Homo sapiens: one gene and its partner. The protein of the gene in region 2 interacts with the protein of the main gene of each other region in a pairwise test. Each region holds a gene or a part of one and is shown on either strand. Other genes may lie near its edges.

What was found.
Region 1: the proteins of SRP9 (region 2) and CDHR3 interact in binary tests that used the Homo sapiens proteins (3 or more experiments, as listed by UniProt).

Annotation. Positions count from the first base shown.
Region 1 is NC_000007.14:105,958,912-105,966,263, forward strand, and holds the start of CDHR3 (cadherin-related family member 3 isoform 1 precursor), read left to right. Parts: upstream 1-4,352; 5' UTR 4,353-4,407; coding exon 4,408-4,453; intron 4,454-7,352. UniProt on the Homo sapiens protein: Cadherins are calcium-dependent cell adhesion proteins.
Region 2 is NC_000001.11:225,787,801-225,790,974, reverse strand, and holds the end of SRP9 (signal recognition particle 9 kDa protein), read right to left. Parts: intron 1,736-3,174; coding exon 1,616-1,735; 3' UTR 511-1,615; downstream 1-510. UniProt on the Homo sapiens protein: Component of the signal recognition particle (SRP) complex, a ribonucleoprotein complex that mediates the cotranslational targeting of secretory and membrane proteins to the endoplasmic reticulum (ER).

The DNA.
Region 1 (7,352 bases), on a different chromosome or scaffold from region 2:
AGGTCAGGAGTTTGAGACCAGCCTGGCCAACATAGTGAAATCCCCTCTCTACTAAAAATACAAAAAACTAGCTGGACATGGTGGCGGGTGCCTGTAATCCCAGCTACTTGGGAGGCTGAGGCAGGAGAATAGCTTGAACCCAGGAGGCGGAGGTTGCAGTGAGCTGAGATCGTGCCATTGCACTCCAGTCCAGGTGACAGTGCGAGACTCCGTCAAAAAAAAAAAACAACAACAAAAAACTGCATAAATGATTTTTTAAAATGGTACACCTCTATAGGACACTTAACATGAATGGAGCTTGCAGGACTGGAAGTTGCTGTAGGTGAGTGAGTGAGTGGTGAGTGAATGTAAGGCCTAGGACATTACTGTACACTACTGTAGAGTTTGTAAACTTAGTCCACTCCATTTATTTTTCAATTTTTCTTTCTTCAATAATAAATTAACCTTATCTTACTGTAACATTTTTACAAACTTTTATATTTTTAAAACTTTTGACTCTGTTGTAATAACAGCTTAAAATACATTGCACAGCTGTACAAAAATATTTTCTTTCTTTATAGCCTTAATCTATACTATTTTTCTATTTTTTTTTAACTTGCAAACCTTTTTTGTTAAAAATGAAGACACAAACACACACATTAGTCTAGACCTGCACAGGGTCAGGATCATCAATGTCATGTCTTCCACCTCCACATCTTGTCCCACTGGAAGGTCTTCAGGGGCAATAACACACATGGAGCTGCCATCTTCTATGATAACAATGCCTTCCTCTGGATACCTCCTAAGGGCCTGCCAGAGGCTGTTCTACAATTAGCTTTTTTTTTTTTTTTTTTTTTTTTTTTTGAGATGGAGTCTCACTCTGTCACCAAGGCTAGAGTGCAATGGCGCGATCTCGGCTCACTACAACCTCTGCCTCCCTAGTTCAAGAGATTCTCCTGCCTCAGCCTCCCAAGTAGCTGGGACTACAGGTGCTCACCACCATGCCCAGCTAACTTATATTTTTAGTAGAGACGGGGTTTCACCATGTTGGCCAGGTGGGTCTTGAACTCCTGATCTTGTGATCCACCCGCCTCAGCCTCCCAAAGTGCTGGGATTACAGGCGTGAGCCACGGTGCCTGTCCAGCTTTATTTTTTTAAATAAGTAGGAGTATACTCTAAAATGACAGCATACATTTATTATCATTATAAGTATTATGTACTGTACATAACCGTATGCGCTAGACTTTTGCATAACTATCAGTGCAGTAGGTTTGTTCCACCAGTATCTCCCCAGACACATGAGTAACATGTTGCACTATGATGTTACAACAGCTACAACGTCACTAGTTGATAGTAATGTTTCAGCTCCATTATCATCTATGGGACCACCATTGTGTACGAAGTCCATGGTTGATGGAAATGTTGTCATTATGCGGTGCATGACTATATGTTATAGATTATGTAAGGGTAATTGAGTTCCAAGTTCCAAGTCAAAAAATGTTTGGAACACAACTCCTTTGCTAGCAAATTAGACACTTACAGTAGCTAGTTCCCAGGGAAGTCCCCTGAAATACTTTAAGGGCCTGAATCACTGCTGAGCCAGACAGCATGTAGGAGAAGGCTCCTGGGTCTCATGTGAAGCTGGAGGGGTGCCTGCCCTAGAGATTCCGACCCTGCCTGAGGAACCCATTCATCCCATCTGGCTGAGACCTTGGTGGATCCAGGACAGCTCAGCATGCTGGCAGTCAGGGACAGGAGAGCCAAGGACCGCAAGGTCCCATTCAGCCTTGGTGCGATTCAGGCCCAGTTGGGTGTCTGGTGCTAGGACTAGGTGCTTTCGGAGGGAGATGGGAATTGACACATGGGCAGCAGCCCGCGGCAATGGCAGAAACAACCTCGGGGCTGGAAACAGAAGCTGTAATTACAGGAGAAAACACCCACAATGAATTCCAAAAGATGACCCTTTTGCTCCCTAGAACCAGGGAGGGAAAGGAAGGGGAGGCACGATCTCCTGGTAAAAACAGGGTAACATGAAAAATGCTGTGCAGTCAGGCTGAAAACTAAACAGATGTGAGTTTCTTTAATACAAAAGTTTAATCATTCTGACGTTTTCCATAACTTAATCTGAGCCATCGCTTCAGCTTGAATTATGCATAATGAAATGGATTATTTACAGTATCTCACATGACAGGAAAAACTGAGAGGTGAGAATTGGTAGCTTGGCAACTGTTGTTTATTTTTCTTTTTATTTGGCCAATATATATTGAGTACCTACTATGTTTCAGCCCTTGCCAGGGTCCTATTAGGAAAAAATAGTGTGGCACATGCCTGTAATATCAACACTTCGGGAGGCGGAGGTGGGAGAATCGCTTGAGCCCAGAAGTTTGAGACCAGTTTGGGCAACATAGGGAGACGTCCTCTCTAAAAAAAAAATTTTTTTAATTAGCCTGGTGTGGTGGTGCACGCCTGTGGTCCCAGCTGCTCCAGAGGCTGAGGTGGGCGGATTGCTTGAGTCCAGGAGATTGAGGCTGTAATGAGCTATGATCGCGCTGCTACACTCTAGCCTGGGAGACAGAGTGACAGTGAGATCCTGTCTCCAAAAAAAAAAAAAAAAAAAAAAAAAGTATTTTTAAAACACATAGTATGGGCCAGTTTCTTTCACTTCTTTCTCTTGTGTATCGCTTGCGATGATACTGTGTAGCAGGTATTATTTTCCCTGATTTACAGAAGTGAGTGGAACTGAGATTCTGAAAGGTTAGGTAAATTGCCAAAGGTGACACAGCAACACTCCCTTTTGTTTTGTTGTTGTTGTTACTATCTATGTGCTTCGAACAGAGACCTATCGACTAGCTTTCCTAATCTTACTACCTTTCCTTCATGCTTTACACAAGAAAAGTCAACTTTTCTTAAGGGAAAGGTTCTTGTTATTTTGAGCAGGAAAGTAAATGACCAAAATTGTACTTTGGGGAAATTAACCTAAGTTTCTGTAGGATGTGCTGCGGGCCAGAGCCCAGGCCAGAGGCAAGGACCTTAAGCCAGGGCAGTAGCAACAAGCATGGGAAGGGGCCCGGCAGCAGGCCCTGGAGGCTGGAAAGGGCTTGTCAAATGTTTGGATGTGGTGGAAGGGAAGGGCAGCCTTGCCACCCTAGGTTTGGGACGCAGGGGACACAGGGGACACTGGCAGGTGGCGCAGCCTGGGTCAAACCCCTCACTCTCTGAGCCCTTCTTGCTTGGCACCCTTGCAAATAAATGCCTTCCTTTCTATTGCTGCAAAAACCTCGGTGTGGATATCCGGTTTTACTGCACAGGGTGAGTGGACCCAGTTTGGTTCCATAACACTGTCTCCCTCTATCCCTCGTTGGTGACCTCCGTGTAGCAGGTGCTAAAAGCTGGTTCACCTGTGGGGCATGTGTAGTTTTCAGAGCGCCTGTGGGGTCTCGTCCAGACTGGGAGGCTCTGACTCAACTCCCCACCTTCTTCACTGCATTCCTGCCCCCAGCCTTGGGCTGCTGGCCTCTCCTCCCCTAGCTGGCAGAGGAATGGGAGAGGTGGTCCAAGCCCAGCTGCCTTCCACTGTGCCCACTACTTCTCTTACTGCACCATGTCAAGGGGACAGGCCACTGCTCGGCCGTTCTCTCTCTGCTCTGCTGTTGCTCCTTCTCAGTGGAGACTAGACCCCAGCCCGCGTTTGTTCACATGCCACATCTTGTGCCCTGGCACAGGGCTGTGTGGAACAGAAAGGCATCGTGAAGGGCAAGACCTGCATCACTCCCCAGTGGGCAGAAGCCTCACCACTCCAGTAACCTTCCTTCACAGCCTTCTTCGAGGGCTGGAGGGGCGGTGGTGGGGGGTGGAGTCAGAGGGCAGTCTTCCACCTCAAGTCAGCCTCGAGGAGGGGTCTGCTCCCAGCTCTCAGATCTTGTCTTTAGAACGAGTGCCAGTTAATTCCCAAGTCTGAATCCTACTCATTGATTCAGGACAGCAGAAAAACTCCCACTTCCCACCCCTGTTTCTGGAAATGACCACAAGCCTGGCTACAGGGCGACCGAGACCATCATGGGTGGACTACGCACGTCCAGCTCTTAGTGTGGTCTCCGTGTCTCGGTTTTCTCTTTTGACTTCTCTTTTGGAGCTCTTGGTTGAGACACTTGGTGAGTGTGGACTTTTAAGGTAAACTCTGAGCTGACCAGGACTGGCTGGTTGGTCTCTTGGGTGCTATGCAGTCACAGAAGCAGGTAATCAAAGAACAAACAGTCCTGTGGTGTTTGGAGTCTCCCTTGGCTACCGCCAAAGCCTCTGTTTGATTTCTTGCATGGCAACAAAACCAGGAGGGGAAGCTGAGTGGCTTCTGGAATAAACTTTGGGTGTGAGACGGGATTCAGGCTGTGGCTAATGTGCTGGAAGCACGCACAGTTGTGACCATCAAGTATGCAGGAAGCAATCATTCTCCTGGCTCTCCTGGGTGCCATGTCAGGTAGGAACTCAATTTTGCTTTGGAACCTTGCTTGCCTACTTGGTCTGCATAATACCATTGAATGACAATGTCCCCCAGAAAGGAAATTGCCCCTGGGAGGCTTGTTCAATTGAGGGCTTAGCTGCAGTAATGAATGAGGTGATGCCGCTCCAGGGAGCCCTGGGGGACCAGGTAGGAGCCCTGGAAAAGAGAGATGCTTAAAGAGCCTAATCTAATCTATGTTGGTGTAGACTTCACTTTCCCTCTTGGGTTAACTGGCCTGCATTTGGTAGTCCTCCTGAGATTTAAGGTTGGGAAAATAGTGTTCATAGCAGAGCTTTGTGAGTATGTCAAGTGAGTCTTTGTGGAGATTCTGGCCCTTTTCTGGAGGCTCGTAGGGCAACTTGAGGTTGACAAGTGATCCTTTGAGGAAAGTGAGTTACTGAGGGGGTGTCTTCCTCTTGAGCAAAGAAAACACCTTCTGATAGAAGGGTCAAAGACTCAAGCTAGTGATCATTTTACTCTCTCTTCCTCATTCAAGGGCATCAAGAATCTTAGATGATCTTTTTAATGTCAGCTTGGATTATTGAAATTGAGATTTTAAAATTAAATTTTATTTCTGAATAGGTAGTATATGCATAATATATTGAATTTATGTTAAATTTGCAAATTAATTTAGGGATAATTTACATCTTTGACAAGTTATGTAGTAAAATACTTAGAAGAGTGTCTGAGTACATAGTAAATGCTTAGTAAATGTTAGTGAGTATTATTTATGATCTTGAGTCTTCCTAATCCAAGAACAGGGTTCTAGATACTTGTTTGAGTCTTCATTTGTTTTTCTTAGGAGTATTTTGAGGTTTCCTTCATATAGATTTGGTACATTCTTATTATGGTTATTTCTAGTTCTTTTACTTTTTCTTTTTTTACATTTGTAAATGGAATCTCTTCTTCCCTACATCTTTCAACTGATTATTGTATGATGTATGGAAATCTGTTAACAAATTATCTTATTATTTGGCATGGTTTTTCAGGTGATTCTCATGAATTTTCCACGTTTGAAAAAATGAACATTTATATTCTTCTTCTCCTATGTCTATAGCTCCTATTTTTTTCTTATCTAACTGCCAGGCCTGGACATTCTGACCATTATTAAATAATGACAAGAGTGTAAATTCCTGTCTTGTTTCCCATTAAGCATGATGTTAACTTTTGGTGTGAGAGAGAAATGTTTTATATGTTAAGGAGGTGGCTTTTATTCTTATTAATATAAGAATATTACAGTATTTATTTCTAAATAAAAATATAATAAAACTAAATGTAAGAATATTCAAGTACTTATTTCTAAATAAAAATGGATTTTTAAATCAAACGCTTTTTCAAGATCTATGAAAATGACCATTTAATTTTCCTCTTCGATCTGCTAATAAGATAAATAAATAACTGGGTTTCCTAATATTGAGCCCTCTTCTATCTTGGGCTTTTCAACTCAGCAGAGGGCAGGATGACCTGTGAATGTGAAGTGGGCCATGAGCAGTTCAGACTGTCACTTGAAGTAAACATTTCAGATTTCCCCCAGAAATATGGGCTTTTAGGGCCACAATCATTTGAGTCGAGGTGACTTTTATTGTCACTGGGGAAAGAGTGAGGTTAGGAAGAACCCAATTTCTTATACTGAACACTATCATTTGGAATTTTATCAGAAGTGTGAAAGGGATAGATCACAAAGGTTTGCAAGAAATACTTGAGATTTCTTATTTAAAACACACAATAGAATCCCTTAGGTCAAATCTTGTTTTTGGAAGGGCTACTGTGACACAAACTGTTTCTTTTGTGAGTCTGAGAACCTGGTCATTACCCTCACACTCCAACACCTGGGCTACAGAGGCTTCTAGCGGGGCAGCCACATCAGCACCCCTTCAGGCTGTTGGAAGCAGGCATCACTATAATAATCTCAAATAAAGTAACATACAGTAAAAAATTAGCAGAGCATGAAGACGGGTGCCTATAATCCTAGCTACTCAGGAGGCTGAGGCAGGAGAATCGCTTGAACCCAGGAGGCGGAGGTTGCAGTGAGCTGAGATTGCGCCATTGCACTCCAGCCTGGGCGACAGAGTGAGACTCCATCTCAAAATAAGTAAATAAATAAAGTAACATAGAGTATCCTCTTTCCTTTCATGTGTTCTAACTCCTATGCTTCCTTCAAGGCCCAACTCAAGCCCCACCCCCCCCCATGGAGTCTTCCTGGATTGACCTAGCTCCTGGGGAGTGCTCCTGCTGTTGCACCCTGGAGCTCCTCTTGCCTGCACATGGACTGCCTGCAAAGAGTTCAGTCCAGCACCTAATGCAGATTCAGTGCTCAGCCAAAAGTAGCATGAGCTATCATACTGTAATTCATCTGTTATATGGCCATTTCTGCCTCCTCAACTAGAATGTCAGCCCTGCAATAACAGATTTCATATATCTTATTGCTCATTGTCCCTGTGTGCCACATATATAGAGGATATCCAATACATATTTGCTGTTTTTATTTTTATACTTTTTGAGTCTGGTATGGTTTTTTCCCCACATTTACTGATACACCCCAAATGTAGAGCTTTAGATCTTCTTCCTGCTTGATATTGACATTTAAATTCACTTCTGTCCTTTCCACCTCCTATGAAGATGAGTTTCCCTTTGTGAAGCTATAGTGCCTATTCCACCAACAGCTTACAAAGGGAGGCTCTACAAGAATATAAACTAGACAAAACTTTCAACTGCCCCAGTGGAAAGAGTTGAGACAAAGCAGTCATCTGGCTCCATCAGTCCCAAAGGATCACATGTGAGTCCCAGAAGATGAAGGACATAGAGAAGGACCCTTGGTATTTTTAAATCCACTGCACATGGAAGCTGTCTATGTTTTGAAGAAGCATCCAAGGAA
Region 2 (3,174 bases):
TACTATTGTTGGCCCCATTTCCAGAGATGAAAATGAAGGCTTAGAAAAGTATCTAGTCTAAGACCACAGAGTTAGGAAATAGTGGAGCCAGGATTTAAAGCCAGGCAGTCTGACTTGGAATGTCTGTTCTTAACCACTCTGTTACACGCTACCAGGACTCAAAGAACCCAAATGCCAGTCTCTCCTTTTCAGGTCATCTCTGTAGTGTTAAATAAGGGGGAAAAAGGTCAAGCCTCTCCCCTCCCCTGATGGTGATCCCATTAATTCTGGGGGAAAAAAAAACAAAAAGCCAAAATAATCCTATACTATTTGATGTTACTTTTCTAATTCAAGAAAACAAACTTGCTATTAACATATAGTGCAGAGAAAGTCATATAATATAAAGTACTGAGAAACAAAAAATTTGCTTTCAGCATTACTAGGCTCATTTTGGACTAAATGAATATAGTATATCCCAGCTCAGAAATCAACAATTTCTGAAAAGTTAAAAACTTCAACACAAACAATATATATTTTATCTAATATTTTATTTACTGATCTCTCTGAAACATGCCAAAATTCATATAGCTAAGGGAACTTACCATGCTAAAATGCTGTTCAACATGACAAATTTATACAAAACATATTTCAATGTAGTGCCTTCATTTCATTCTTGAGGAATCAACATTACATTTAGGTGGTGAAATACAAATATAATTATCAAATATCGTACTTCTAGTTTACTGGAAAACATAACAGTTGTGACAGTCACACCTAACACCTTGGTTAATTAAAGACAGAAAATGGGCAGGGGTGTCACAGAAGTATGCAAGGATTTGACAGTTCAAACTAATCCATAGCCCTTCTGAGAAACTACAGATGGAAAATATGTAGTAAATATTTCTGTAATATGGTGGTTTCAGTACATTATAGCACAGTGATCATCATTCCATTCATACACTCAAATAACTGCTGCTTCTGATCACTGAAAACTAGATTCAAAGTCATTGCTCAACAAGCTGATACTACAAATCCCTTATATTAACAGGTAGTTTAAATGTGGAAATAAGGCAAAGCATACTTGTTAGTCACAATTACTTTCAGATATAATTGAGACTACACTGCTATACATAATTAGGTACACAGTATGTATAACAATGCATACTATGGTGTGGAGTTAATTCCAATTACCATATTTTATATTTATTGGTCACAACAGCATACATTTTATGCTCCAAAATACATGGATCTGACAAAATGGTTACATTTAATGTTCTTTTAAAGAAAGATGAACTAAATTTAAGAAGAATTGGTTTTTCCTAATATCTCATTTTCAAATTACTGATACAAATTTGCCAGAGAAACAATTACATGTTTTACCTAACATCAAATAATCTCCAGTTTCTAAGACAGATGCATTTCTTGTTCAATTTCCAAAAGTAAATAAAGGCTTTCTAACTGAAAACATTTGCATCCCTAGCTCTCTAAAGTAATTAAAAAGAAAATTACAAAAAATGACCTCTAAGCTTCTGAACAGCCCACTTAGTTACATAAAGTACTTTCTGTCCCAACACTTTCTCTAATTCAAAAGATATTTACTTCCTAAGTACACGACAAAGTCTTCATTTCAAACCATTCACTCAGTTTCCATGGTAACATTGCGGGCTTCCTTGGCTACCATAAGTCGCATTAGTTGACTGTGGAATTTCTCAATCTTCTTTACATCTTGAGCTTGGTCTGTTTTATACACCAAACACTGTCAGAAATTTTAGAAGTACATATTAACTATATAAAACTAGATACTGACAATGTAGAAAACATACAATTGGGTAAAATTTTGAGAGTTTTTCCTACCACTGTTTTGCTCTATTCTCCTTGGAGGTCGTACTAGGGAAATTGCACTCAAGTTTCCAAGCCTCCAGCAATTCCATGTCTTAAAGTACAGTAATTTAAATGCCACTGCTGTGGACAAAAAACTGAATGAAGTCTATTAGAAGCTTCTGAAAAATGTTAAATGTTAAATCCTGCTATGGTCTGATGAGAAGAACTCAAGACTTAGAATTAGATATTTTCTTCCTTCGAATTAGGTATTAGATTATCTCCCTACATATTTTCTCCCAGCCATAAGTAACTGAGTTATGCTGGAAAAAAAAACACAGAAATCTTAAGATCTCTTTTTCTACTGGTGAAATTGGGGGTTTGATAATAATTTTTAGAAAAAAATCTAGAATTCTCTGTGTATAGCTGGTCAACACATAAACCAGGTAAATCTTGATTTTCTTGGCCAGGCGTGGTGGCTTACGCCTGTAATCCCAGCACTCTGGGAGGCCGAGGCAGGCGGACCACCAGGTCAGCAGTTCGAAACCAGCCTGGCCAATATGGTGAAACCCCGTCTCTACTAAAAATACAAAAATTAGCTGGGCGTGGTGGCGTGTGCCTGTAATCCCAGCTACTTAGGAGGCTGAGGCAGGAGAATCGCTTGAACCCAGGAGTGAGGGCTGCAGTGAGCCAAGATCATGCCACTGCACTCCAGCCTGGGCGACAGAGTGAGATTCCGTCTCAAAAAAAAAAAAAAAAAAAATCTTGATTTGCTGAAGGTATGTATTTTTGAGACAGTGTCTCACTCTGTGGCCCAGGTTGGGGGTGTAGTGGTGCAATCTCAGCTCACTGCAACCTGCGTCCTGGGCTCAAGCGATCCTCAGCTTCCTGAGTAGCTGGGACTACAGGCACACACAACCACACCTAGCTAATTTTTCTATTTTTAGTAGAGACGGGGTTTCTCCATGTTGCCCAGGCTTGAAGATATTACTTTTAAATCAAACCAAATTCTTCCTTGTTAGCAGTTAAATTCTTCACTAGATACTTAAGATCTGCTTATGGTTGGTCATAAAGCCATCTGTTGTAGAATCTTCAAAAACAGCAACTTTAAGCTGGCAGCCCTTTCCTCATTTTGTAGTACAGATCCACTTTTCTTCAGCCCATCTTAAAGGTTCACATGAGTTTTAAACAACAGGAACTAATGATCCTATAATAAAAGTCAACAACTTAAATAACTTGAAGTTCAACCTCATCATGCCCAACTGATTTTTTTAAGTGAGCCTTTTAAACAACTCACTTAAAAAAATTTTTATCCACGCATTGTACAAATTTGTGCGGCAATCTTGTAAAAAGGCCATATTAATCTTCATCATCAAA